3 separate regions of the Homo sapiens genome follow, and all the other regions are linked to region 1. The links come from fine-mapping of genetic effects on gene expression. A gene starts in region 1. Each other region holds a variant in brackets. All regions are shown on one strand. Distances are between the middles of the regions. Region 1 holds the start of NTPCR (nucleoside-triphosphatase, cancer-related). Region 2 overlaps PCNX2 (pecanex 2). Region 3 overlaps DISC1 (DISC1 scaffold protein).

What was found.
Region 2: its variant is fine-mapped to the expression of NTPCR in whole blood (TOPMed, PIP above 0.99).
Region 3: its variant is fine-mapped to the expression of NTPCR in substantia nigra (GTEx, PIP above 0.99).

What each region holds. Positions count from the first base shown.
Region 1 is chr1:232,944,671-232,954,641 of GRCh38, forward strand. It overlaps NTPCR (nucleoside-triphosphatase, cancer-related), which reads left to right and starts at 5,941. Exons shown (of 5, transcript NM_032324.3): 1 at 5,941-6,074. The coding sequence starts at 6,041. It overlaps LOC107985361 (a long non-coding RNA gene), which reads right to left and starts at 6,879. Exons shown (of 2, transcript XR_001738525.2): 1 at 6,658-6,879; 2 at 3,550-6,486. RefSeq lists enhancers at 5,663-5,762, 5,675-6,216, 6,217-6,756, 7,885-8,384, 8,320-8,529.
Region 2 is chr1:232,987,142-232,997,112 of GRCh38, forward strand. All of the region lies in intron 32 of PCNX2 (pecanex 2), which reads right to left. Among named protein-coding and RNA genes, the nearest start is that of NTPCR, 42 kb to the left of the region's middle. The variant C/T (reference allele first, on the strand shown) is at 4,597.
Region 3 is chr1:231,966,703-231,976,673 of GRCh38, forward strand. The region is part of intron 10 of DISC1 (DISC1 scaffold protein); the gene reads left to right. The region is part of intron 13 of TSNAX-DISC1 (TSNAX-DISC1 readthrough (NMD candidate)); the gene reads left to right. Among named protein-coding and RNA genes, the nearest start is that of DISC1-IT1, 46 kb to the left of the region's middle. The variant C/A (reference allele first, on the strand shown) is at 5,375.

The sequences.
Region 1 (9,971 bases):
TTTAAGTCTGCAAAAACGTGTTGAATCTTCAGATTCAAGTCTCTGATTTCTTGTGCCGGCACCAGCCAGAGAAAATGCCCAGACTTTATGATAAGGTCAGGCCTATCTGGATGATCTCTCTATCTTAAAGTCAAGTTAAGGTCATATAACGTAACCTAATCACAAGAGTAGGAATCTTCTATTATATTCACAGTCTTGGGAATTATGCATGGCATGTACAGATTGAAAGGCAAGAAATTTGGAATGCCATTCTAGAAGTTTGCCCAAAACAGGTAAGACTGCTGCTTCTCCCATCAGCACCCCTGGGGATGCCTTAGAGCAATTCTTTCAGCTGGTCTTCTCTTCCCTAGTCTAGCTCTATAACTTCAGGTGACCTTTGTAAAGAGAGGTTGACAGGACAATGTCTGTGTGCTTGATGTGGCACCACAGAATTGTGACCAGAGACTTCCCAGTGGGGCTCCGCTGTTCCAATATTTAGTATGTTGCACCAACTAATACACAGTTTTTTTTGTTGTTGTTTTTGTTTTTTTTTTTAACGGAGTCTCATTCTAACACCAGGCTGGAGTACAGTGGTGTGATCTTGGGCTTGGCTGTTCCAATATTTAGTATGTTGCACTAACTAACACACAGTTGTTCTTTTATTATTATTATTATTTTAGACAGAGTCTCGCCCTAACACCAGGCTGCAGTACAGTGGCGCCATCTTGGCTCACTGCAACCTCTGCTGCCTCCTGGGTTCAAGCAATTCTCCTGCCTCAGCCTCCTGAGTAGCTGGGATTACAAGCACGCGACACAATGCCTGGCTACTTTTTGAATTTTTAGTAGAGACTGGGTTTCACCATGTTGGCCAGGATGGTCTCAATCTCTTGACCTCGTGATCCACCTGCCTCGGCCTCCCAAAGCACTGGGATTACAGGTGTGAGCCACTGCGCCTGGCTCCGTTGTTCTTATTCGAAGGGGAACACCTAGTAGGTGAGTGACCTGCCCAACTTGCTTGGTCAAGCAAAGTCTTATGCCTATCTCATGGGGACATCACCCAAGGATGATTATCGGATGGTTACCTCAATGTACCACCTGTCCTTTAAAGCTGGGAAAGCCTGTAGGACTTTCCTGCTGCTCTGCCCCTGCTCTTTGTCTTCCCTGACAGTCCCATGCTGTCTATGGGGATATAATTCACTTATTCACTCATGTGCTTAAGAAAATATCAGTTGAGCACCTATGATAAGCATGTGCCAGTAAATGCACAAACGTTATTTCTGTAGCAGCTGGATTATTACAGCAGCATTCAGATTGGTCTTCCTGCTTCTACCATTGCCTTTCTGTAGCCAATTTCCTACACACACGACTGATGATCCTTTTAAAAGAATTTACATAATGCCATTCTTCTGGTCAAAACCCTCCAATGGCTTTCCAGCTGTTACAGTAAAAGCTAGAGTCCTCACCATGGCCTATAAGGCCTGAACCACCTGCAGCCCCTCTGACCTCACCTCCTGTGCATCTCTCTCTCCTACTCTGCTCCGGCCACACTGGTTTGCTTGGTTCCTTCTCAGGCCATGTGTTCCCACGTCACGACCTCTGCACATGCCAATGCCTCTCTCTAGACCGCCATCCCCCAGACACCGGCAGGGCTTGCTTCCTTCAACTCTCTGCTCAGATGCTGTATTCTCAGTAATATCTTCCCTGACCACCTTCTATGGAGTAGCACATCCACTTCCCTTTTCATTTCCCATCCTTTTATTTTTTCCTCCATGGCCTTACTACTCTGTGGCATTTTATTTATGTACTTGTCTGTCTGTGTCTCCCACCAGAATATAAGCTATAGCAGCACAGAGACTGTCTTCTTTGCTGCTGTATCTCCAGGACGTACATTTCCTGGTACACAGTGATGGATGAATGTGTTGTAAGTACCGTGCTATATTCTGGGTATAAAGAGATGAATAGCACAAGATTTTTTAGATTCTTTTTTTTTTTTTTTGAGGTGGAGTCTCACTCTGTTGCCCAGGCTGTAGTGCAGTGGCTCACTGCAACCTCTGCCTCCTGGGTTCAAACGATTCTCCTGCCTCAGCCTCCCGAGTAGCTGGGATTACAGGTGCCGGGCCACCACACCCAGCTAATTTTTCTATTTTTAGCAGAGACGGTGTTTCACCATGTTGGCTAGGCCAGTCATGAACTCCTGACCTCAAGTGATCTGCCCACCTTGGCCTCCGAAAGTGTTGGGATTACAGGTGTAAGCCACCGCACCCAGCCTAGATTTTTACCTTTGGAGGAGTTCATAACTGGGTGGCAGGAGAAGAGGCAGATGCCAGCAATCAGGGGGTGCTGTAAGGGAAGGCCAAGGGAGCAGAGGCTGGGCCTGGAGAATCACAAAAGCCTTGGGGAGCAGTAACAGTTGAGCCCATCCTGGAGGATGAGCAAGGAGTGACTGGGGAGAATGCGGGGGAGGCCTCTCACACCCCCTCTCACTTCCCCTTGTCCCTCTGCTTCAGTCATGGTGGCTGGTGGCTGTCCTCGATCCCCACTGGCTAGGGGTAGATGTGTTGCCCGGGTCACATGCTTCCTCAGAGTCAATCACTGAGGCTGGGAAGATAGAATGATCTCGTTGACCAGGCTTGGGTCATGTATTCCCCTTGGATAATGAGAAAGGGAGGGAGGTTCACTCCTATCAATCACAGAGCCTGGGAGAAAGGGGGTTCCTAAAAGGAGAATTTAGCTGCTATTTCCATACAGTGAAATGAACAGTGGGCTGGCCAAACAACACAATGGTCTCTCTTCCCACTTGGTTATTTTCACATCCATACTTTTTCTTTGTTCTGTTTTCAGTTTTCCTGTACTTAGGAAACTGTACCCTAAATATGCCAGAACTCTTGTTCTGTGTCCAGCCAGGAAGATGCCACAGGATGCCAGTAGCAGCTGGGCGTGGGGGACATCCAGGCATGCGGTGTAGGAAGGGGTGGGGTGAGGGTGTAGAGTCATCTCTGCTTCTGTCCTACTGGGTTACTGGCAGGATAGAACATTGTTCTGCACAGAGATTAGAACTCAGGGTATGAATGGCTCAGAGTTTAGGTACAGACTGCATTAAACAGTCATTCTATAACCACCGCTGACAAGACAACCAGCTTACAATAAAGTATTATTAGCCTTTGACTTGTTTGTAAGAAGGAATTATCTTGTTTAACCACATGAAACCTTCTGCTTTACTTCCCAAATGTTCCTTTAACAGTTTGATGACCATTCATCCTGGTTTGCTCGGGATTGAGGGGCTTTCTAAGACACAGAATTTGCAGTTTAAAAATTAGGACAGTTCTGGGAAAAGGGTAGATATGAAAACAAAATAAACAGTGTTTTTTGGACTTTAGGGTATTTTATAATTGTAGAGACTGTAGAGTTGTACCTACAAACTGTTTTAATAAAGAACTGTACTGCATCCTGTCATAAGTGAGGCTGCACCCAGGTGTTGCAGAAGAAATCTTTGGAATCACCTGTTCCTTAGGTAATTAATTCTACCTTGTGTGTTAGCTCAGGCTACTATAATAGAGTACCACAGATGAGTGGCTTAAACAAAAAAACATTTATTTCTTACAACTCTGGAGGCTGAAGTTTAAGATCAGGGTGCCAACACGACTGGGTTCTTGGGGAAGGCCCTCATCTTGGTTGACAGAGAGCAGTCTTCTCCTCGTATCTTCACATGGCAGAGAGCAGAGAGATAGAAAGCAAGTTTTCTCCCGCCTTTTTCTAAGGGTACTAATCACATTCATGAGGACTCCACTCTAGTGACCTGATTACCTAATTGCTTCTTTAAGGCCCCACACTTTAATACCTTCACCTTGTGGGTTAGGATTTCAACAATATGAATTTTGGGGGGACACAAACATCCGTCCATTGGATGTTGATTAGATAGGAAGCAAAAGTTGGATTCAGTATGGTACAGTACTTTAAGATCCCATTTATTTTAAAATTTGTTTCAATTTATGCCATCTTCTTTTGTTGTTAATCTCTAAGAGATATAAGCTATTTAATTTTTTGTTATTGTTACCTAATAACACATACAGGAAACTGTAGAAATTAAGCATCAAATCAATGAATTTTCTAACAAGAAGATATCCGTGGAACTACCATCCAAATAATTCATTTTCCATGGATAAAGTACATTCAACTATGGAGTCTTTTTTTCTGTTTTGTGAGACGTTGATTCACCATATCTGAATTCCATGTATCTTTGAGCTACTTAAACTGATGCCAGAATTCCAGGCACAGCAACAAAACAAAAGAACCCAACTTCCGGTGAGCCTTGCAAATCCAAACTGCTTTTCAGTGATGGAAAATGCTATCTGATTAACATTTAAAACGAGTACTTTTGATACAAGAGATACATATACTTTTTTCCTTTTTTTTGGAAGCTCCTCCTATGAATTTACTTTACTATATCAACTTTTCACTGTATTCAACATATATGGACTGCAAAATAAATCAAGGTGGAAGGCCCTACATTAACAGTTGGGATAATAAATAGTATACTGTTATAATAATAGAGCATTACAAATGTTGCAGAAATGATGGTGATGACAGCTATATTTTACAAATCCAACTTTGTTTTTTTAGATAATCATTGGACTGGCATATGTCTCAGGCTAAAGGGAAACCAAGAGGTCCATGTGTGGGCAGAAACCAATTAAGTTGAGCACTCACTGAACTGCTTTCTCAGCCAGGATGGGGAACGACTGACTACAAATTAAGCTGTACACATGTTAGACTGAAAGAGTTTACAGGTAAATGTGGCCCAAGGCCACTGCCACGTCATTCGTTGGCCGGAACACTTGCAGTGGTAAAGTGAGACGGAGAAGCTATTTAATTCTTTGCAAGAGGAGATCTTTATACACTTTGGTGTGAAAGTAAAGAGGGAAAACTGGGCGTCCTATGCATGGCTGAGGACGGGAAGCCTGCCTACACCAGTGGTTCTCAACCCTAGCGCACTTCAGGAACTTCCTGGAGTTTAGAAAGAAGAAAAAAGAATACAGGTGCTCAAGACTCGCTCAAGACCAATTACTCATGTTAAACAAGATTTATGGGAGGCCATTGTTTTGGACTAACCTCCTGCACTAGGTCCTAGCAGACTAGACCAAACCAGAATGGAGTCACTTGTGCCAAGTGCCATGTAACCAAACTGAACTTTGAAACAGGCCCGTTTTCCCAAAAAACAGGAGATTGTAGTTAACCTGAGTCAGTACAATAACGAAGTCCAATCTGTTTTAACCCTATAAGGAAAGTAACTTTGAAATACCCACTCTTTGTTTTGTTCTTCAGCCTTTTTTTGCCCATAAAGCCAACCTCCTCTGCACAACTCATTGGAACACTCTATTTGCTTTATGAAATGATCTATTTCTCGATTCTAGATCCTAAATATAAGCCAATTAGATCTTTAAACTAAACTTGTAATTTTGTCTTCTGACACTCCCTATTACTGCAGGTGAAACCCAGGCATCAGAGCAAGTTTAAAACTCCCCAGCTGATTCTATTCTGCAGGAATGTTTGAGAACAAAGTTGGAGTCATTAACATGGCATCCCCCTTTGAGGAATGCTTCCAGGTCACAAACCTTCTACAAAAGGGCTGTCCCGGCAGCCTTGGGCAATTTCAGCTCCTAGGTCCGGAGTCAAGGGGCAGAACTTGGGTGATGGCGCTGACTTGAAGCAGCAATAGTTTAATAACTGACGTTCTCACGCACTTATCTCTGCAAATACCCCACAAAAGCCCTGAACCCAGAATGAAACTTAAGAGACCGTACAACCCGCTCCGCCTATAGGAACTGCCGCGGCACAGGCGCCAATGCCGAGGGCTGAATGCGCAGGCGCGGACCGGGGACTCGGGAGAAGGCGCATGCGTGGTCTTGAGGGCGGTGCTTCCGGTCAAAGCACCGCTTGGGGGCGGGGCCTGCGACACGCGGTGGGCGGGTCCTGAGTCGCGACCCTGGTCCGGACCTGACCTGAATTGCGACCCCAACCTGGACTGCTCCCCTGACCGCAACCCCTACCCCCGCCCACCAGTATGGCCCGGCACGTGTTCCTAACGGGGCCCCCAGGTAACCCTGAGGGGATCCCCACCTCCAAGAGGTCGAGGGGGTGGGGGCGCGCGGGCTGCGGGCGACCTTGTGCTGTCGGGGAGGGTCTCCGGCTCCAGGGCTCCGGCCTCTGAAGTTCCCAATTTAAATGGCGGGCTTGGTAGTCTGAAGAGTTTGTACTCCTTCCCGGAAAACGTGATTTAAAAGACACAGGGCCTAAAGGATTAGAACACACTTGTGAGGGGGTCCTAGACTGGCTTCTTGATGAAGGGCAGAAACCGCAGGGGCCAGCGGCAGCGGTAACTCCTACTGTAGTGTTGACGTTGTGGTCTGCACAAATGGTATTTCAAGAGATCTGCGGCAACCGCGATGTGAAGTGGAGATGTCTAATTTCTGTTGATAGTCACAGGTATTTCCTTACTGTGGGTCTTTGCTACATTGATCGTGCAAAAAAAAAATGGTAAATTTTAGTTGGAGGACAGCGAAACTGAAGTTGTAACCTTTCTTTCCCATCTAAGTTCATCCCCCCACCCCCATCCCCATCTCCATCCCCACGAATTCCCTCCACAGCTGAGGCCAGAGGTGGAGAAGCTTTGGTACCTACAGGAGCCCTTCTCAGACACTCTTGCTTGTTCCTGTCGCTGTCCCCTCCTGATGTCTGTCAGATCCCTCAACCCTGTGGCCTGTGGAGTTCTCATCTGAGAAGCAGGATAGCGTTGAGGTCAGATGAGAGGTGTAGGAGGAGGTGCTTTTAAACCAAGGCGCTACCCATGTATCAAGCATTACTAAAAAGGACAGGTAGGCTGCATCAGATAGGCTAAAAAAAGATAGATGGGCTAAGAGTGGAGAAAGTGATTTCTTCAGCTCCTTTGCAAGGCAAATCTAATTTTGAAGTTTAGTGTGGGTTCAGATATCAAAGGCTGTAACCCTGGATCTAGAATTCTCTTTCACTTTATTTTAATGATTATGTTTAGTTGTAAGTAGCAAAGGCTACAGCTAATATTGCAGACTTTGGGATTTTGTCAGGCATTGGATGGGGGAGTTGGGGAGCAGGGGGTGAGGAGGAGGAGGGTGGTTTGAGAAATGCCTGCTATCTAAAGTCACTCCTAAGTATTGCAAAGAACTGTTTTCTGAAAGTTGGTTTGTCAATCCTTTATTTGAAACTTGGAATGCAGTTTGATACTCAGCAGGCTGACCCCAAGACAACTGTGTGTTTTATTAATGGAGGTGTCCTGTTACCGTGATTGTATTGATGGTGGTTCTTGTTTCTGCTTTATCAAAGTCTTACCTACACGTAGTTGAAAGACTCAAATAATTCTACAGTGTAGCTCTCTTAAACCTGTCCTCAAACCCACGCACCTTTGTCTTTTCTCCTTCTCTTCTTAATGTAGTTACAGCGTAATTTTCATTAGTCAATGTTTACAGTATTATGGCCATGTAAAGACAATCACAACAGAGCCACATAGTAATCTATGATTTCTTTTCCATTTATTTATTTATTTTAGAGACAGGATCTTGCTTTGTCACCCAGGCTGGAGTGCAGTGAAACAGTTATAGCTCACTGCATTCTCAAACTCCTGGGCTTAAGTGATCCTCCCACTTCAACCTCCTGAATAGCTGGATCTACAAGCGCATGCCACCACACCCGGGTATTTTTTTTTTTTTGTAGAGACCTGTCTCTTGTTATGTTGCCCAGGCTGATCTCCAACTCCTAGCCTCAAGTGATCCTCCCATCTGGGCCTCCCAAAATACTGGGATTATAAGTGTGAGCCACCTTACCCATCTTTTTTTTCCCTCTTCTTATTGAGACAGGGCCTCTCTCTGTTGCCCAGGTTGGAGTGCAGTGGCACAATCTTGGCTCACTGCAACCTCCACCTTCCAGGCTCAAACCATCTTCCCACCTCAGCCTCCCTAGTAGCTAGTACTACAGGCATGCACCACCATGCCCTCTAATTTTTTTTTTTTCCTTTTACACATAACTTTTTTCCCCATTAGGAGTTATTGTCAGGTGTTTTTATTTGCCTAGTTTCTTTCTGTTTTCTCAATATGTTCAGACCATCAGGTAAAGTCTCCTCTCAAAGAGGTCACTTTTTGTTGCATATCCTCTTAGTGCCCCTGGCACTTAGCATTTTTTCCGATTTCCAACTGTCTGTACCCATGACTCATCTTGGAGGGCTTTCTCTGGTCCCTGGAGCCCACTTGGCCTGCAAACAGAGCAGGCCAGAAGAGCCAGGGAATTCCTGTGCCCTGGGATTAGCCTTCAACCTGTGATTGGTGAAAGTTAGTTGATAAATTCCCTACTTTCTCACTCCTCAGACAGGATAACTGAGCCACTTGCCCTGACTTGTCCCTTAGGATTCCCCAGGGGGTTGAAGCTCCAGCTGCCCCCAGTGGAACTTGCTTGACAGTGCACCTCATGCTGGTGTCCTTCCCTTCCCTTTCTGAATTTCTTCCCTGCCAGTCCATCATGTTGTCACTGCCCAGGTTAAACTACCTGCACTTGAATCTTTATCTGAGGATCTGCTTAGGGGAGAACCAGAACCAAAATAATTCCAGAGCTTTCTGATCTGTTTGTGCCTGGTATACAGCTATCATCTCGAGGTCTCCTGAAGCAGAGGTCATTTCTTATCCAGACAGCATTGGGGTAGCAGCTTAACTAATGAAGAAAAAATTAACTGAAAGAAGATTCCTAGAGCTGAAGAAGCCAAAAGGGACTTTGCCCAAATGCTTCCTATTTATTGCTCTACTATGTTCTACACAACATACAGTCCCCACAGTATACCCTTTGTGAACAGGAATAGTTACCGTTGCTCCATTTTATCTTTTTCAAAATATAAACGGCAATTTTTGTTAGGATAAGAGTAAGACCCATTCAGTATAAGAATTAAAAAAAACAAGAAAAGTTTAAGGAAGAAAGTGACAATCACAGGGAATTTGAACATCAGAAATCAACATTGTAAATCTTTGTTCTGTATTCTTCTTGACATTTTTTTTTTCTGTAGACACGTACTTGACCATTCTTTAAAAAAAACATAATGGAATGGTTTCTGCTATTAACCTGCTTTTTCCATATATTATTTTCATACATTGTGGTCTATTTTCCATGCTAATAAATACATATAAGCAGTATATTTTTTAATGGTTGCATGGTATTTCTGTGTATTTATGTGCTATTATATACATGGTGCCATGAGTTAACATTCCCTTACAATCAACATTTAGGTTGTTTTCAGTGTTTTGCTATTATAAAGAATGTTGCAGTGAATGTCCTCTTTCACACATTTGTATTGTTGATGTTTCCTGAGGATGAATTCCTAGTCATGAACTACAGGGTGCTGTGGCAGGCGCATTGAAATTGCCCTTCAGAAAAGAAGTAGCAGCTTACACATTCGGCAATGCCATTACTTGCATGAAACAGATTCTTTAGTGACTTTCCTAAAGCAGTTGTTACTGATGGCCAGGGCTGGATTAGAATGTCATCATTTTATGTTCTACACAGTTCTACCAGCTGCATGCTCACTGTGGCTTACTGTAGCCAGAATCCTGTTGTGTTGCTGTTCATGTTCCAGAAAGCCAGGTGCCATTATTTTAATGTGAAGTGTGAAGATAGATACATTAAATAAGAATAATGGATCATATTTTATGTCAAGGAGGCTTAAAAGAGTGGGTAGTCTTAGAAATAGCATGATTTGCAACTCTGTAGTATCTCAAAATAGCTCACTTGCAGACATGCTAGGAGTTTTCTCTCTCTTTCCATTGTTGGGTAGTCATGATGCCACTTACTTAAATCCATATTGGGAACAAGGCTCATATTTTAAAAAGTCATGGTGACAGGTAAAGTCCCCTGTTGAAAGGTATGGACCTTATGAGGGGTATAGCCTTGGGTAAAATACCTAACCACCATGTACCTCAGTTTCT
Region 2 (9,971 bases), 42 kb after region 1:
TTCCCATGCTCTTCTCAGCCAGCCCCTTTGCCCACTGCCTCGCCCCTCAGGGGCCCTGCCACCCCAGCCTTTGCTGAAACTTGTCTAGACAAGGCCATTTTTGACAAAAGGGACTGGACTACCCCCAAAGATGTGGTTGTGTCCATGCTGCTGGAAGCAGGATAACTTCATGGGGTCTTCTGTGCGTGATGGCCCTGTGCAGCCTGTGGTTCAGCTTTGCAGTCTAAGCAGTCTGAGGAAATGGGTGCTGGCTAGAACACCGGGTTGCTTAACTTGAGCATCCATGATCACTAGGGGCTAATTGCAAAATATCATTTTGATGGGAGCAGCTAGTGACATCATGGTTCTATGAACGGCATCATGGGCATATCCCTGCAGCTGCTACAATTAGGCATTAAATAAAGACAAACAAGGGGGCGGAGGCATGAGTATCAGAAAGGACGTCCTATGCATTGCCTTGTGTTCCACCTCACCCCAAATGCCCATTATTCATTATGCATCTGGTGATTGTGAAGCGGGCGTGGCTGCCTCCAGGAGAACCCAAGAACTGACACATCATGTGAGAGGCAATTCCTTAGGGATACACATTACGAAGGGGATTCCAGGGTTCCTTCCAGCCCCACCCCACCCCACCGTGGCCTAGGCTGAAGGGGCCTTTCTGCCTCCTGTTGACCACAGTGCCAGTTTGGATGCTGTGATGGTCGAGTGCCCATTTGCAGAGGGCACTGGTGCTCCCATCTCACTTTCTCCTGCCCGTGTGTTGACAGTAAGGAGCGCTCGCCCCACAGTGCTGGGGGCTTCCGCAGGACGGGGCTGCCCTCCCTGGGATGAGTGTGCTCAGCCCCTCGCATGGGGCCCACCCGCCTCTGCTGCAGGAGGGGTGCATTCGGGCCGGCCTGAAAGGTCCCGGCTGAGTAGTTGAATATATTCCTCTTACAGAGAAAAAGGAGAGGAGGAAAGGGACCCTGATGAATCAGAATGAAAAATAAGGAGGGCGATTTGTTAGTTTATTCAGTGTCTGGCAAGGCCGGACGTGTGTTTGTGATTTCTATCGTAAAGCTGATCACTGTCCAAAAATACTCCACATTTATCCACAAGTCAGTGATTGTGATGCTCAATAGAAGACCACCCATACTTGGTGGGGAACTTCCTAGAGAATTCCAGGAACAAGGGGACAAATAACCCACTGTGTGTCAAAGGGAAGTGGCCTGCTGTAGTCTGTGCAAGACAAGGACTCCCCCGCCACCCGATTTCATTGCTTCAGGTTTTCTCATTGCTCTTTTTTTTTTTTAATTAATTTTGCAAATGGAACAGCACTAAGGAAGCAAACCATGCTAAATGCATTTGTGCTACTCAAGATCATTATTTTACAATTTAACTTATTTTGCAAATAACTCTATTACCAAGTTATGAATGTTTCTAGGGAAAACCTTTTTAGAACCTGAATGGAAATACCTTACATATAAATCACCCTCCTTGGTTTATTATCGTGGCACTTAATTCCTTTGTCTTTGATGTTATCTGAACAATCGTGGTGTAGCTCCTTAGTAATATGAGAACACAGCCTCCCTCTCCAATCTGGGATTCGGATTAGTTATGAATTCCTAACTGCTCACCAGTAAGTAGGTCACCAGCCTCCACTGCTAGGCCAACTCCCCTTCCAGCTGTGACATATGCTTTTTACCCCAGCAAGACGTTTGCAGGTTGTCAGGACCTAGATGAGGCTGGCGTAGTGAGCGCCTGGCAGCTGGGTGCAAAGTGCTGTGTGCACCAGCAGCAGCAGATGCACAGCGTGGCTGGCCTGGGGAGAGGAGTTCTGTCTGTGAGGTCTCAGGCAGGAGGGACCCCAGTCCGCTCAGCCTCTAGCAAGGGCTCAGGATTGGGATACCTGACCAGAATTGAGGCAAGGACCAACGAAGGGTGGGGGCAGTTGGGTCCCCAGTTATGTGAGTTGAGTCTTGGTGACTTGGTGAGTAAAACAAGACCCTTGTTAGAATTTGTTTCAAATTCGCCCTTCAAAACTGCTCACTCGGCCGGGCACGGTGGCTCACGCCTGTAATCCCAGCACTTTGGGAGGCCGAGGCAGGCAGATCACGAGGTCAGGAGATCGAGACCATCCTGGCTAACACGGTGAAACCCCATCTCTACTAAAAATACAAAGAATTAGCCAGGCGTGGTGGCGGGCACCTGTAGTCCCAGCTACTCAGGAGGCTGAGGCAGGAGAATGGCGTGAACCCAGGAGGCGGAGCTTGCAGTGAGCCGAGATAGCGCCACTGCCGTCCGGCCTGGGTGAAAGAGTGAGACTCCGTCTCAAAAAAAAAAAAACTGCTCACTCTTTGCTACTTGGCTAAGGGTCTCTGTCATGCCCTTCCCAGAGAGGCAGGTCCTCCACTCTGAGAGGCCCCCAACCACCTCTCCAATGGCACTCAGCACACTGTGTTGTCACTGTCTGATGCACGGTCCTCTCCACTATGTGCCCTTTCTGCAGCAAAGGACCCCTGTATCACTTCTATGAGCTCAGCACCCAGTACACTAACATGTAAGTAAAGGATACACAGGACAAACCTGCAAAACTGACCAGATGCCAAAACGCTGATTAGAAATCCAGTGAGCTTCAGAAAGTTCGGGGTGGGTACAGTGTTTCTTAAACTTGGCCATTAGAAGCATTTCAAAAAATTAATCAATATCTTGACTAGAGGCTGAGACCCATAGGCAAGCGCCTGTAGATGGGCCCAAGGGGCTGCCACTGCAGACTGGAGGGCAAGCTAAAGGTTAGGAAAATAGGAAGGTGATTCCTCCATACTTCCAGGGTCAAGTCCAAAGATCTGGGATCAGGGAATGTTCTCCCCATAGCTGGAGACTGGCCTCTAACGCCCCTGCACTGGCCAAGCAGGTCTCTGGCTTCCTTTCTGGGAGCTGTGTGTCTCAACTCGGACGGGCATGGTTGTTTTACTTAACTAGAAGGAGGGTGAGAAGGAGGCCAGAGACTGAAATCAAATCCAGTTATCCTCACATCCCTGAAGGGAATGATGGCCTGCTGGGAATGGCAGGTAGGTGGTTTCCGCAAAGTGTCCCGGGCAGGGCCAGGCAGAGCCGCCCCTCCCGTTGTGGTAGCCTCCTTCTTGGGCTTGCTCTCCTTGGAACCTGGGCTACCTGCACACTGGGTCTCAGGTGCAGTGTCTTGAGGGGAATGAAAGCTCTGTGCTCCCGGTCGCAGTCAGTGCTAGAGAGCCTTCTGGATAGTTGAATCACATCTTGGAGGGATTCTGGCCGGGGGATTGGGGCACCAAGGTCATGATGGTACATTTCAGGAGAGCCAACAAGATCGGCAGCTCTTGGCTCCACTGCTCTTGGCTGTGACAGAACCTGCCTACAGCTGCAACTCTGAGACCCAAGGGCTTTGCACCCTCGCCCTCTAGGGAAGCTGTAGTGTAAGTGGCTGAGGCCAGGAGGGGTAACCATCCACTCATTCGTCCAACCTTTGTCTGCTGAGCCCAGATCATGCTTACCACCCAGCCCAGCACCTCAGAGGTTTCCCTTGGTGGCCCCTGCAGCCGTCTCTGTCCCCACAGGGCCAGGAAGCTGTGGAGACAGGAGCACGTCAACCAGCTCCCACCCACTCCTGCTTGGCCGTGTGCTGGGTTCCCAGGACTCCAGAACTCCCTGCCCCAAACTGGGGCCTGCACAGGCCTCTTCCCCAGGGTCGTCTCCCAGGGCGGACCTTGGGCCTACTTGCAGGCACGTGCACCCCCAGACGGGCATGTGAATGGGGAGGCTCCAGTGCATGCAGGCAGCCCCTCACCTGGCAGGATGTGGGGAGAGTGGGGAAGAGGGTGGTGTGGTCTTCACATGTGCTCCTGTCACAGGCTCTGCAGAAGTTAGGGCTGCCCACCTGAGCGTCCACCGTGGGCTGCACTGTCCTAGGTGCCGGGCAGTGAGCAGCTCATGGGAAATTCTGACCACAGACAAGGCACATGCATCAGGCAGGGATTGGAGGGGAGGAGAAAGTGGGGCAGGGGGACAGCAGTGCTGTATGGAAGGCTGGCCAGGGTCTCTTGGATAAGCTGGGATTTGATGGGAGGCTGTGTGAGTAAGCGAAGGAGCTGCAAGCCTGGGAGAGGGACACTGGGGACAGAGGAGGCAGCAGCTGAGGGGGCCCTGGAAAGGAGAATGCTTGACACTGTTGAGGGACAGCAAGAGACCGTGTGCTGGGGATGTGGGCTCATAAGAGAGGGCTGAGAGAAGGGAGAGAAGGCGTGAGAGAGAGAGCAGACCAGATGGGGGCCTGCGGGGGAGGGGTGCTCATGGGATGCGCGTGGGTGTTCCGGGCTGAATCATGTTCCCTCCCCAGACTCCTCTGTTGAAGCCCTAACCCCCAGGACCTCAGGGTGGGGCCTTACTTTGACACAGGGTCGTTGCAAATGTCATTAGTTAAGATGAGGTCATACTGGAGTAGGATGGGCCCTGAGTCCATGATGACCAGTGTCCTTATAAAAAGGGGACGTGTGGACACAGAGAAGTACAGGGAGAACATGATGTGAAGACCAAGCCAGAGCTCAGTGGTGCTTCTCGAGGCCGGGGGATGCCTAAGATGGC[C/T]GGTGAACCACCACAAGCTAGGGAAGGGTCCTGGACCCCACTCCCCTCCAGCCCTCAGGAGGAACCAAGCCTGCCCACACCTGGATCTCAGACTTCCAGCCTCCAGAACTGGCAGACAGTAGGTTCATGCTGTTTAAGCCACCTGAGCCATGGTACTTTGTCATGGCAGCCCAAGCAGACTCACACATTCTGAGCTGAAGCCATCATTCAACAGAAGAACAACGTGAACTGATTTAAGTTTAAATAAAATCACTCTGACTTGCTTTGTGGAGATTTACGATTTTGTGTGTTGTCGGAGCTGCACGAAAGACCAGGGAGAAAAAGCAAGAGAGATGATAGCAAGAGAGAGGTTTTTCCTTCTTTTAAGTGGGAAAGGGGTAGCAGGCCTTGTTCAATCTCCCCTGTCTTCTTCCAGCTCTCTGACCCTCTGCTGGGGATAAAAGCCTTGGCATAGCTTCCTAGGCTGCAGTGCCTTCTTTCCTCAGCATGTCAGCTCCTTGAGCCAGAAAGGTACTTGAGACAGTCCCTTGCTCTGCTCCTGTCCCTCCCTGACCACAGTGAGAAAGTAAAGGAGCCCCTGCTGGCTGCTTCAGAAAGAACTGGGTGTCAGCTTTGCCTGCTCGTGGGGCCAGAAGGAAGATCACTTATAAGTGGAACCCTTGCCAGCCAGGGGACAGGACAAAGTCATGCTGGGCAGAGACATGCCAGCTGCACAGATGGAGGGCAGGAGGCAAGGGCGGCACACTCAGTGTTCAGTAATGCTTGTTTCCATCAACTCATTCCCAGGGCTGGGGACAAGGACATTCGAAGCAGCATCCCTGGGGCCAGGACAATGGGATGGTGCAAGGTGGCTGAGATCACAAGTTCTGGGGCCAGCTCACCTGGGAATGAATCTCAGACTGGCCACTGCCTGGCTGGGTGACACTGGGCAGTGACTTAAGTTTTCTAGGCCTCTGGTCTCCACCCAAATTTGATCTTGAATTGTAATCCCCATGTGTTGAGGGAGAGACCTGCTGGGAAGTGAATGGATCATGGGGGCATGGTTCCCCCAGGCTGTTCTTGTGATAGTGGGTGAGTTCTCACAAGAGCTGATAGTATTAAAGTGTGGCACCTCCTTGGTCTCACTCTCTCCTGCTGCCATGTAAGACACACCTTGCTTCCCCTTCGCCTTCTGCCATGATTGTAAGTTTCCTGAGGCCTCCCCAGCCATGTGGACCTGTGAGTCATTTAAACCTTTCTTTATAAATTACCCAGTCTCAGGTTGTATCTTTATAGCAGTGTGAAAATGGACTAATATGGAGAATTGGTACCAGCAGAGTGGGGTATTACTATAAAGATACCTGAAAATGTGGAAGCAACTTTGGAACTGGGTAATAGGCAGAGATTGGAACAGTTTGGAGGGCTCAGAAGAAGACAGGCAGATGAGTGAAAGTTTGGAACTTCCTAGAGACTTGCCGAATGGTTTTGACCAAAATGCTGATAGTAATATGGACAATAAAGTCCAGGCTGAGGAGGTCTCAGATGAAGATGAGAAACTTTTTGGGAACTAGAACAAAGATCACTCTTGCTGTGCTTTAACAAAGAGACTGGCGGCATTTTATCCCATCCTAGAGATCTGTGGAACTTCGAACTTGAGAGAGATGATTTAGGGTATCTGTTGGAAGAAATGTCTAAGCAGCAAAGCATTCACAAGGTGACCTGGCTTATTCTGAAAGTGTTCAGTCATATTTGTTCATGAAGAGATGGTTTGGAAGTACAACTTATGTTTAAAAAGGAAGCAGAGTATAAAGGTTTGGAAAATTTGCAGCCTGACGATGGAGTAGAAAAGAAAAGCCCATTTTCTGGGGAGGAATTCAAGCTCGCTGCAGAAATTTGCATAAGTAACAAGGAGCAGAATGTTAGTAGCCAAGACAATGGGGAAAATGTCTCCAGGGCATTTCAGAGATCTTCACGGAAGCCCCTCCCATCACAGGCCTGGAGGCCTAGGAGGGAAAAATGGTTTCATGGGCTGGGCCACGGACCCCACTATTCTGTGCAGCCTCTGGATTTGGTGCCCTGCATCCCAACCACTCCAACTCCAATGTGGCTAAAAGGGGCCAAAGTACAGCTTGGGCCATTGCTTCAGAGGGTGCAAACTCCAAGCCTTTGCTGCTTCCATGTGGTGTTGGGCCTAAGAGTGTGCAGAAGACAAGAGTGGAACTTTGGGAACCTCTGCTTAGATTTCAGAGGAGGTATGGAAATGCCTGATGTTCAGGCAAAAGTCTGCTGCAGGGGCGGAGTTCTCATGGAGAACCTCTGCTAGGGCAGTGCAGAAGGGAAATGTGGGGTTGGAGCCCCCAGAGTCCCACTGGGGTACTGCCTAGTGGAGCTATGAGAAGAGGGCCACCATCCTCCAGATCCCAGAAAGGTAGATACACTAACAGCTTGCACTGTGCACCTGGAAAAGCTGCAAACACTCAACACCAGCCCATGAAAACAGCTGCAGGGACTGTACCCATGCAGAGCTGCCCAAGGCATTGGAAGCCCACCTCTTGCACCAGTGTGACCTGGACATGAGACATGGCATTGAAGGAGATTTTGGAGCTTTAAGATTTAATGACTGACCAGCTGGGTGTTGGACTTGCATGGGGCCTGTGGCCCCTTTGTTTTGGCTAATTCCTTCCATTTGGAATGGGGACATTTACCCAATGCTTGTTCCCCCATTGTATCTTTGAAGTAACTAACTTGTTTTTGATTTTACAGGCTCATAGGTGGAAGGGTCTTGTCTTGTCTCAGATGAGACTTTGGATTTGGACTTTTGAGTTAATGTTGGAATGAGTTAAGACTTTGGGGGATGGTTGGGAAGCATGATTGGTTTTGAAATGTGAAAGGGCATGAGATTTAGGAGGGACTAGGGGCATAATAATATGGTTGAGCTCTGTATCCCCACCCAAAAAAAATCCCCATGTGTTGAGGGAGGGACCTGGTGGGAGGTGATTGGATCATGGGGGTGGTTTCCCCCAGGCTGTTTTTGTGATAGTGAGTGAGTTCTCATGAGAGCTGGTGGTTTTAAAGTGTGGCACTTCCTCACTCTTGCTCTCTCCTGCCACCATGTAAGATGTGTCTTTCTTCCCCTTCACGTTCCACCATAATTGTAAGTTTCTTGAGGTCCCCCCAGCCATGCAGAACTGTGAGTCAATTAAACCTCCTTCCTTTGTAAATTACACAGTCTCAGGTAGTACCTTTGTAGCAGTGTGAAAACAGACTAATACATTCAGTTTCTTTATCTGCAAGATGAGGAGGGTGAAACTGCCTGCATCTCTAAAAGCCATGGTGAGGATCCAGTGAATGTGCACATGAAAGTACTCAGGATGGTGTTGGTAGAGTAGAACCTGAGAACTGTTACTGTTATCAAATTTTATCACCTGCAGCAAGGATGCTGTGAATACACCGGGGGGCAGAGAAAGAGCAGGGTGGCAGCAAGGCAGGTGAGTTCAAAGCAGCTGATGCTTGGCCCAGGGCTTCATAAATCTCCCCAACCCTCCATCCCCCTAAGCAGGACAACAACTGGTCTCAGAGCCTGGGACAAACTCAGGCTGCAGGTGTGGCCAAGGCATGTGGTGTGTGGGGTATTTAGCCAGGCATGCTCCTTTGCTTGTAAAATGTAGAAAGCCAGCGGTGGCCTTGGCAGGAAGTTTTAAGAAGCATTCATGAGAAATTAACAGCTGGTTTAGGCTTTAGTAGATCCTGCTCCAGAGTAAGCGTGTCATTTAAATATGTGGAGGTAGATGCCCCAAAAATACAAAGCAGCTGCAAGAGTTGGAAGCAGTAACCTCTGAGAATTAGGAATGTTGCTGGGGGGTGAAGGGGGGAAACCCATGATTTTTGTTTTAATCCAGGCAGTCCTTTTTGAGTTTTAAACTATGCTGATTGTATAGTTTGATTATTAAATTTTAACTTAAAAATCCAATTTAAAAAAAAAGATCCTGCTCTGACATCTTCCACAAACGGGAAGCTGTGATTGCTCCTGTAAATGCAAGGAATGCTCACTGCCTATGGTGTTCGGACTCCAGGGAGTGGAAGGAACACCAGCTCTTCCAGGCAAGGCCAGTTCCAGGTGCTGTTTTATAGGAAGAAAGGGAAGAAGGTGTTTCCAATTTCTTCCCCCTCCTCTCCCCCCACCCAGGCTGGAGTGCTGTGGCGTGATCTCGGCTCACTGCTACCTCCGCCTCCTGGGTTCAAGGGATTCTCCTGCCTCAGCCTCCCAAGTAACTGGGATTACAAGCACCCACCACCACACCTGGCTAATTTTTTGTTGTATTTTTAGTAGAGATGGGGTTTCACCATGTTGGCCAGGCTGGTCTTGAACTCCTGACCTCAAGTGATCCTCCCACCTCAGCCTCCCAAAGTGCTGGGATTATAGGTGTGCACCACAGCACCCGGCCTCCAATTTCTTTTCTGCCAAGCTTCAAGAAACCAGGTCTGAAGCACTTCTGGAACCCCCACCTCTGACCCCTGTCTCTGACCCTGCCCACCCCGCAGCCACACCCCCCTGACTCTGGACTTTCTCCAGTCCACACAAGTCACCTGGAAGTACTGGCAAATGACAGATGCTTAGGCATTTCACCATTTGGAAGCTACTTTGCATTTCCCCACCTGGAAAGTCACTCCCATGATCCTGAAACACATTTTTCATGTGATAAGAAATGTTAACTAAACAATGAGATACTGGAGGCCTGGGAGCTGCATGGGAGGCCTCCAGCAGGTGTCCTGCAGGGCCTCAGAGTAAACAGCATGGGGTGGGTGGGGCAGGGGGAGATCTTTTTTCCTTTCTTTTGAGCAGCGGATACCACCTATTTTGTCTATTTACCTATCTATCTACCTACCTAGCTTTCTTTCTGTCCTCTATCAATCAGTCCCTATCTACCTATCTAGCATCTGTGGAAGGAAAATAAAATCTCCCCAAACTCATATGCCAAAGGAAAAAGTCAAGCCTGGGAACTGAGACATGCAAAACTGTCTCCCTCCCAATTTGCTTGCAGAGAAATTCCTTGTGGGCCCCAAGATCTTTACTCTAAAACAGTTCTGTTAAATTTCACCCTGACAATGTAAATGAACAGCTTACCTTTACAAATGCGGGACAAAGATAGGACTAGGAGTCCTCCATCTGCTCACCTGAGACAAAGGCACACATGACTCCTTCTTCAACTCTATGTTTACTTTATGTAAAAATGCAGATCTGCGGAGCTGGACATGAATGTACAATTGACTGTTTCTCTACCTACGCTTTTTACATGTAAAATGTGGATTCAGTGAAGGTTGATGAAAGCCTCAAAGGCTGGTCACAGTGGTTGCAAAATACCCCTTTTCCTTATCCCCTGCCCCGCCTTTTTCCC
Region 3 (9,971 bases), 980 kb before region 1:
ATAAAACCTTTACCACGAACTCTTGAGCACTTGGTAGATTATAAGTGATGCTTGCGTCCTTGTCCTCTAGTGAACCTTTACCACAAACTCTCGAGCACTTAGTGGATTATAGCTGATGTTTGTGTCCTTGTCCTCTAGTGTGTTCCTCAAGTGTTTGCTTCCAGTGTGCATCACACTTTTATCATCAGAAAAGACAAACAAAAAATCTTTTAACTCTGTTTTGAACATAGAAGAAAGTAGTTGGATACCTCCTTGGAGGCCCTTCTTAGCTTTAGAAGGAACTGTCAAGAACTCAATGGTCTTATCTGAAATTTGCTTTGAAATTTAGAGATTGATGTATTTTTACAAAGATGATCCAGTTCTCTTTTTAAAAACTAATGTTTACTTTTTAATTATTAAAATTTCAATAGGACAGCCTGATGTGGAATGATAGCCAGGTGAACTCACCCTGCTAATGAATGTCCAGAGGTGGCCAGCAGGGTGAGCAGCACCTGAAAGACCAAGGTCTGTTCCCTCACCCAAGGCTCCCAGAGCCTGTGTGTCATGGCCAAAAGAGACTGTAAACTGCCAACTGCTCTCAATCTAATGAAGACGGGAACCGGGGTCAAAAATTGGAGCAATTGTTTCCAAAACAGGTGCACACAAAACAGTTTACTGGAGTGTGGGAAGAACATATTATAATTTCTATTTTATGCTTCAATTTCATCCATTTATATTTTATCTTCAAAAATGTTTTATATGTATGTAGTAATACATGTATACCACTTGTGAAACAAATATTGGAGTTTCATAATTTTCTTACTGATGAGTGCACACAGTTTAAATTAGAGAGTGTTGAAAAAATATTCATTTACTTATGTTCTAATATTAAACCATAGCAGTCTCCATAAAATATTCACTGTCGGATTTATACACTTTTGAACTTTGAAGCTATTTGACTATTTTGACCAATTTTACAAGAGAAACAATGATTTACATTACCTTATCAGTTTGAAATGCAAACTGTAAGAAAATATAAAGCGCTTAATTCTACAAAGTTAAGTGAAATCATTAATTTGATAATCATTGATTTTTGCATTTAACTTTTACCTTATCTCATCAGAAAAATCTTAAGTATGCTTAAAATAATAATGCATAAGCTAAACATACGCAGAGAAAAACTGCATAAAATATAACAAAATGGCGTGAATTAAAAAGAGTAAAAAAGGAAGGAAAACAAAGGTAGGAAAAACATTAGTAACACTTTGATGGGGATTAGACTCAACACCATAGTAGTTCACTATTCTAGACACTCAATTAAGTATTAACTGATATGTATATAAAACTAAGTAACACTTTACAATGTAAAATGTAAATGATATAATTTATAATTAACTTTTCTGCATTGGCCTATTGGTCATTATAATACTTTCCATTCTATAAGAACCCATGTAATGAATTTTAACTCAGAAATAACTTTCCCAGGAAATGTTCACTTGTGATGGAATTTAGTTTCCAGAGTACTCAGATCAATTCAAAAAATCTGCATGCAGTTCTTCGGAGAGAGAAAGCAGAGTTCCATCTTCTAGAATTCCAGCTCCCTGTGTTAGGAAAGCCTTTCCTTCAAAACAAGAAAAGAAGCCGCCAACCCCGAATTGGAACTGGCCTCTTCACATCTGGACCACAACATGGGAGGCGGAGGCAACTCTTCCCTTCTCGGTACCCTGAGCAGACGTACCAGTCACAGTAATTAATATAAAAGGTGTCCTTCCTCTTGAGGCATCACTTTTAAAGCAAAAACAAGGGAGGCTGAGGCAGGAGAATGGCGTGAACCCGGGAGGCGGAGCTTGCAGTGAGCCGAGATCCCGCCACTGCACTCCAGCCTGGGCGACAGAGCGAGACTCCGTCTCAAAAAAAAAAAAAAAAAAGCAAAAACAAAAACAAAAAGCCCTCTCACACACACACAAAAACCTGTTTCTGTTTCCCTATGTAATGAAGACCCCTGAGGTTGGCAGCAGTGTTGTCCACCGCCAACTCCCTGTGGTCGATCTGGAAGCTTCATCTAGGGAGGGGCTCATGAAGGGGCCTCATGAGTAACCCCTCTCCTGAGGATTGTTATTTTCAAGTACCAGCTCTGGAATCAGATAGTCTAGATTCAAGGGTGGCCATTTCTGAGCTGTGGGCCTTTACCAGGTTAATGCAGCTCTTAAAGACTTGATTTTCTGTCATAACAATGGGATAACAGTAGAATAAGATAAAAACTATTTCTTATATATAATAAGGGATTAATCAATGATCACTAGTATGTACTAGTAGGAATTATGGCACCATGGAAATTATGAAACCAAGAAACTCTACATTAAAAAACAAGTTTTATTTTATAAAAACAGAAGAGAATACCTTATCTTCCTGGTGAAATTGTGGGGAGCAGAGAGATGTTTGCTTGTAGCTAATACCCTCCATTAAGGATCTGCCAAACCTCCTGATTATCCAAACACTCAGCGGTTTTTTTTTTTTTTTTTTTTTTTTTGCTGTCTGCCCTTTGGCCAGCTGTTAGCACCTGCTGCAGAGGGTGGGAAGAAAAAGAAATGAGGTAATTGAGTTCTTGCTAATGGCTGTGACAGAAGATTTAGAGCCTTCAGTGGTTCCTACAGTCAAGTGGCAGGGATCCTAGAGCACACTGCTGCTCTCAGAATGGATCTGGCTTGTTCTGGAGTTTTTGAGATTGACAGAGCTCAAAGTTCCCAGGCTCCAGAGCTCAGGTGCTGGGGAGGATTTCCCATCACTTCTGAGATTTGGGGAGCTCCAAGGCCCCTCCTCTTGACCCTCAGTGGAGCTCAAAAGAAAATCGTCTTGACCTCAGAGACAGCATTTTGGGGTGAAGATACTCCAATATACTTGTTTCTTTCTTTCTTTCTTTTTTTTTTTTTTATTATACTTTAAGTTCTAGGGTACGTGTGCACAACTTGCAGGTTTGTTACATATGTATACCAGTGCCATGTTGGTGTGCTGCACCCATTAACTCGTCATTTACATTAGGTATATCTCCTAATGCTATCCCTCCCCTCTCCCCCCACCCCATGACAGGCCCCGGTGTGTGATGTTCCCCTTCCTGTGTCCAAGTGTTCTCATTGTTCAATTCCCACCCATGAGTGAGAACATACCATGTTTGGTTTTTCGTCTTTGCGATAGTTTGCTGAGAATGATGGTTTCCAGCTTCATCCATGTGCCTACAAAGGACATGAGCTCATCCTTTTTTATGGCTGCATAGTATTCCATAGTGTATATGTGCCACATTTTCTTAATCCAGTCTACCATTGATGGACGTTTGGGTTGGTCCCAAGTCTTTGCTATTGTGAATAGTGCTGCAATAAACATACGTGTGCATGTGTCTTTATAGCAGCAAGATTTATAATCCTTTGGGTATATACCCAGTAATGAGATGGCTGGGTCAAATGGTATTTCTAGTTCTAGATCCCTGAGGAATTGCCACACTGTCTTCCACAATGGTTGAACTAGTTTACAGTCCCACCAACAGTGTAAAAGTGTTCCTATTTCTCCATACCTTCTCCAGCACCTGTTGTTTCCTGACTTTTTAATGATCGCCATTCTAACTGGTATGAGATGGTATCTCATTGTGGTTTTGATTTGCATTTCTCTGATGGCCACTGATCATGATGACTTGTTTCTTTCTTTCTGGTGTTTTCCTTGGAGAAAGCAAAAATATTGCCCTAGAGAATGGCATGGACAGAAAAGAAGAAGAAGGAAGATTAGAAGTGAAGCCCTGTGGGCTTGTCTGGTGAGGGCCCTCTTCCCAGGACTTAGCTGCATGGGAAGAATCTGGGTAGCACTACAAGGATGGAATCCATGGGGTCTTAGTTGCCTGTCATCATTTTCTTTGCCATTGATAATTCAACACTTAATCAAATGCGGTGGTGTTTTTGAAAGATAGCCTGAAGAAAAAGATGACCATGACTTTCACTAATAGAATAGAAAATAGACAGGAGATTGATTATCACTTAAAAGAAAAGGGTTCATTAAACAGGTTCCACTGTGGTTTGCGCAATTCAACCCAAAGTTTCTCTGCTGTAAAGCAATGATAAGATCACTCTGCCCACTGAGATCAATTGAGAAATCAACCAATATTTAAGAAGGTCTGAGACTTGGCAAGGTGCCCAGTGACTGAGAAAAGAGGGTTCCTCTTTCTTTAAGTTGGCAGAAAGACATTCAGCTGTGATTTTTACGTGGCCTGAGCTAAGGAAGAGACTGAGCTAAGGAAGGCAGTGTCTTGTGTAGGTTATATCCATGGTGCTCTATGAGCCTGTGCACCCATTATCCCCAGATATGTCAATGTGCTTCACAGTGTGCACATTTCATGGCACCTGTTACAGTTTTAAAAAGACAGTTTAATTAATTAATGGTGAATGTTCAATCTTAGATGGTTTTTTTAAACTCAAGATAAACCATTATAGCTTGAGTGTTTTTGATGCATTTGGCTAGGAGTTAGGAAATCTTAAAGAAAAATTAATTGCTGTATCAATGGAAACCCCAGTAGGTAGATAACAAATTTGTCATTAATTAAATGAGAAGACTTTTTAATGATTCGAGGAAGCGTCGTCAAGATTGTATGATAGTTTAATTTGCTAACATGGTATGAACCTGTTAGCTTCAGACACATGATTAATAAAAGTAAAACCCCTCATGGAATTTCTCAGATGCTCAGTTCTAGCATGCAGTCATTTTTGAGACTTGCTCAATGTCCTTATCTCACTTTACTGACAGTTCTGCAGCAGCCGTGGCAAATGTAGGTTAGACAAAATATTACATGCAACATTTTCTATGATTCATTTTGCTCCTTTTTCCCTCTTCCCCTTCCTCTCCAGCCACCCTGAGTCATACAACAGCTGTGAGAACATTAGTTACAAGGGAGCGAGCTGCAGACACTTTAGGTGCTGGGCTGTATCCCATTATATCTGGATGCTGACACCAGGATGGGTTCTAAATCCCTTATCACAACTGCCTCAGGCGGAAAACATTTTTTTTTCCTTCTGTTGCTGCTGATGTAAAGATGAAGTTTCTCGAGCTGAGAGAATTTTATGTGATCGTATTGTATGCTAAGCCTCAGAAGATAATTCTGTAGCTCCCATTCATCACAAAAGCAGGGACTTTCAGTTGTGCTTCTTTAAGAAAAAAATTCCCCAGTAGAAATCATACAATGATTTAGCGGACTAAGAAAAAGAAGAGAATCACCAACAGGATGACTTGTGACAATTACACGAAGTCATTTGACTGAGTTATTTCCTTTATTATTCTGTAAATGGGAAAATAACGAACATGCTGGTTATCAGCTGTGGTTTTGCAATGGAGGCGTTCCACCAGTGCAGAGCGGTAATTA[C/A]GCTGCCCGGTCTCACTTTGCAAATGAACTGAAGCCTGTCTCTTTTAATTGACTGTCTGTCTCTAGAATTTTCTTGATTTATTGCTGCTCAGTAGAATTTACTTTTGTTTTGTTGATGGCATTTGTCAACTCTAGTAGTTACCAAATGGAAATTGTTCTAGAGGGTTGCTTTGGCATAAGTGTGCTCATTTGTGTGGCTTATTGGAGCATGAAGGAGAGATGTGCTTCTGTAAGATGTCTTGCCCTTCTGCCTGCCAGAGGGGCAGGGGCTCACCTGGAGTATGTTTCATCTGGTTCCTTAGATCTGTAAGTGACTATGAAGCCTTTCAACTGGAAGAGTTTAGTCAAGTGTAACTGTATGATTTCGGAATGAATATGGCCCCATCTTTGTTTCCCAGGTGGTGAGTGTTTAGGGCATTATATAGCAGCTGTGATGATGAGAGCTTGGCTTCTCATCTCCAGCTATGTTAGTCTACCTAGGAAGAAGGATTCTTCTCTAAGAAGAATTCAGTGGGACAATATCCAGAGATACAAATCTCAAGAGACAGACTCCTGAAAACAAATTGACTGCTCATTTGGCTTCAGATTCCATGCATAAATCTCCAGCTCTGACTGTTAATCACAGCCACTAGACCTCACGACATAGGATTTTAGAGGCAGATAAAGAAAATGGCAGTTGATGTCTTAGCCTGTTGCTATGCCAGTCTATGATGAACTAGCACTACCTGAACTCAAGAGTAAGAAACAAATGAAACTGGTTATAAGGTTTAGGAAAAAGCAAATAAGCTGTTACTGAGAGTGGTGACCATATGGTACCTATAGGGTACACGGGCCCTCTGTGAAACCCGTAATATTGGGCTGCGTCTCCTCTTTCCTCTACAACCTGACCCCATCGCCTCATTTGATGGATTCCAGTCAATTGTAATTTTGAGAATTGTAAGACTAGTATACTAGTATGCCAATGTCTTGTTCTTTTTTTTTTTTTTTTGAGATGGAGTCTCACTCTGTTATCCAGGCTGGAGTGCAGTGGTGTAATCTCAGCTCACTGCAACCTCTGCCTCCTGGGTTCAAGCAATTCTCCTGCCTCAGACTCCTGAGTAGCTGGGACTACAGGCGTGCGCCACCACGCCTGGCTAATCTTTGTATTTTTAAGTAGAGATGGGGTTTCACCATATTGGCCAGGCTGGTCTCGAACTCCTGACCTCGTGATCAGCCTGCCTTGGCCTCCCAAAGTGCTGGGATTATAGGCGTGAGCCACCGCACCCGGCCGCCAATGTCTTGTTCTTTAAAGGAAGAATAAATACACATTTAGAAGATGGCTACAACCTCATGCAAAGGTCTCGAAGCAGCAAGTTGAGGGACAGGGCTTACTGGTCCAAGAGTAACTTCAGGCAGGGAAGCCTTTTCCCATGTCCTTCAAATTGACCACATCACTTGGATCATGAATGCTGTTGATCTGGTTTCAAAACATAAGAACAAGCATCTTCGACAATGCGGTTGATAAACATCATCAACAACAACCCACCGAAGCATCAGTTGTTTTGTCTTGTCCGTGGCAGTCCTGCATTCAGATCTGTATTCACTGTGTGATCACATGCATTTTTCCTAGGCCTATAATAGGTTTCCCTCCGCATGCCCAAACAGTGGAGCTAGCATTTTTTTAAATTTACAAACAAAGATTGTAAAATTCTAATTGGGAGTGGGACATCCTTTTTAAATAAATAGTCGTATTAATAGTAATAGCAAGGAGACCATCTAGATAGTACTCTATTTTCAGGGCTCAAAAGTGAAAAGCTAGAAAAGCCAGCTGTTTAAGCATTGGCAGGCAAGTTATGATACGGAGTACCCTCCTCACACCCACTCCAAACTAATGTGTCATCTTTCTCTGAAGAGCTGTGGCTGTTTTTGTGGTTCTGAGTTGACGGGGATTTTTTTTTTTCTTAAAGAGGTACATGTTTATGTTTGCAACATGGTATTTCTTGCAGCCATACTCCTCAAGTCACCATCTCCAAAGCTCACACACTAAACAGGGTCAAGTGAGTCAAAGCAGCAGGAGAGAACCATGATTGGGGTGTCTGGGACTAGAATGGGGAGGGCAGCATGTGCGGGTGCGGGGCTGGCCTTCCCGTGGTCTCAAGAGTGGGAGGTGTGAGTCTCTCCCTGGATGTTTAGCTCAGCATCACCTCAGAGTTTGAGCTTGACTGAAAACAACAACAATAACAAATATGCCGAAATATGATATCATTTAAAATAAACCCAACAACCTTTAAAAATTAACATTATTCCTTAATCGGACCATTTTACTGGTCTTTTTTTCTTAAGTCAGGAAAATAAATGCAAGCCTATGTGCAGGTCCTCAAAAAATGTGAAAATAAGCCTAGTAAAAATCTGGCAAGAGATGTGGTTTCATCAGCCACCTCATAAGCAGATCTTTTCACATAGATTTTAAGAGAGAAAGTTGGTTTATCTGCACTTTAGTGGATGCTTCCGTTTGCTTAACTTCCGTAATAAGAATCCCTAGAAAAACCTGGAGATAATTAGCAGAAGGGCGGAAGCATGAATTTAAATTCTTATACCCACACTTAATTTTGTCAACTTTATGATTTGCTAACCAGTGCTTTTTCTGCCAGTTTCTTTAAGTCTAGCTTAGTATTATAATAAAAGGAATCAATAATACCAATCTATATAGTAATTTTCTTCAAGAAATTCAAAATCCTATGGAGGAATTTAAGAAATATTTTAGGCCGGGTGTGGTGGCTCACGCCTGTAATCCCAGCACTTTGGGAGGCTGAGGCTGGCAGATCACGAGGTCAAGAGATCAAGACCATCCTGGCTAACATGGTGAAACCCCGTCTCCACTAAAAATACAAAAAATTAGCTGGGCGTGGTGGCACATGCCTGTAGTCCCAGCTACTCGGGAGGCTGAGACAGGAGGATTGCTTGAACCTGGGAGGCAAGGTTGCAGTGAGCTGAGATCGCACCACTGCACTCCAGGCCTAGCAACAGAGAGAGACTCAATTTCAAAAGACAACAAAACAACAATAACAACAACAACAACAACAAAAAACAAAGAAATGTTTTAATATGAGAAAACATTTTGCAAAAGAAGACATACACATGGACAACAGGTATATGAAAAAGGGCTCAACTTACTAATCATCAGAGAAATGCACATTAAAAGCACAATGAGATATCATTGTACCCCAGTCAGAATGGCTATTATCTAAAAGACAAAAAATAACAGATTTTGATGAAGATGTATTGTAGAGAAAAGAAGACCCTTATACACTGCCGGTGGAAATTTAAATTAGTACAACCTCTGTGGAAAACAGTATGGGGATTTCTCAAAGAACTAAAAATAGAACCTCCATTTGATCCAGCAATCCCACTACTGGAAATCTACCCAAAGGAAAAGAAATCAATGTATCAAAAGCCTGCACTTGTATGTTTATCACAGCACTATTTCCAACAGCAAAGATATGGAATCAGTGGGTGATTGGATAAAGAGAATTTGGCATATATACACAATGAAATACATAAAATGCATAAAATACAAATGCATAAAAAGAATGAAAGAATGAGATCTTGTCATTTGCAGCAACATGGATAGAATTGGAAGTCATTATCCGAAGTGAAACAAGCCAGACACAGAACATCAAATATCGTGTGTTCTCACTCCTAAGTGGGTGTTAAAAAATGTGTTCACATGGACGTAGAGAGAGGAATGATAGACGATGGAGATTTGGAAAGGTGAGAGAGTGAGAGGGGGTGGATGATGAAAAATTACTTATGGGTACAATGTACATAATTTGGGTGATGGGTACCCTAGAGCCCTGACTTAACCACTAGGCAATCTATGCATGTAACAAAATTGCCCTTGTACCGCATACATTTATTCAAATAGAAAATGAAATATTTTAGCCTATGCTCATTAGTTTACTTATGAAGCATCTACATGGCTCACTGCACTTTCTTCCTAAGTTCTCTGACTTCTGAGGCAGGAGGTGAGGCCAGGCAGCGGGCAACTGTGCTTCCCTTTCTCACCAGGACAGGTGCCAGGAGCAAGGGACCTAACTATTTTGGTGCAAAGTGTTCATTAATGGGTCTGTGAATCCCATCTCCAGCTCCAGCATGACTCCAGGGCCTAACATTAACTTGAGAACAGTATACAGGAAAAGGGATGTTTTTGAAAATGCTGATTATTTCATAGCCTCTGGGTGTCAGCCGTGAATCTCACTTTAAGCCCCGCTAGGGATCCTGTTGCCACCACTGAGCAGAAAATGCAGTGCTTCTGTGAAGGAATGGGGCACAGAACAGTCACCGCTAATGTGTTCCTGAAAAAGCCGGGGTGACCTTTCTTGTGGCTGCTTCAGAGGATGATGTCACTTTGGGACAGAAAAAGGAAGATCTCTTTCCAGTTCACATAGGATAATAAGAGTTCTGATTCTTAGTTGCATGTTGAAGAACAAACAAGGAGCATAGACACTCATCCTGGGGAAAAAGACTATGGAATCTTTGGAAGCTGAGAGGCCAGCCACTTACTTTCCTGGGATAGAGCTTTTATAACCCCCGTATTGGGCTTAACTCCATACCTTTG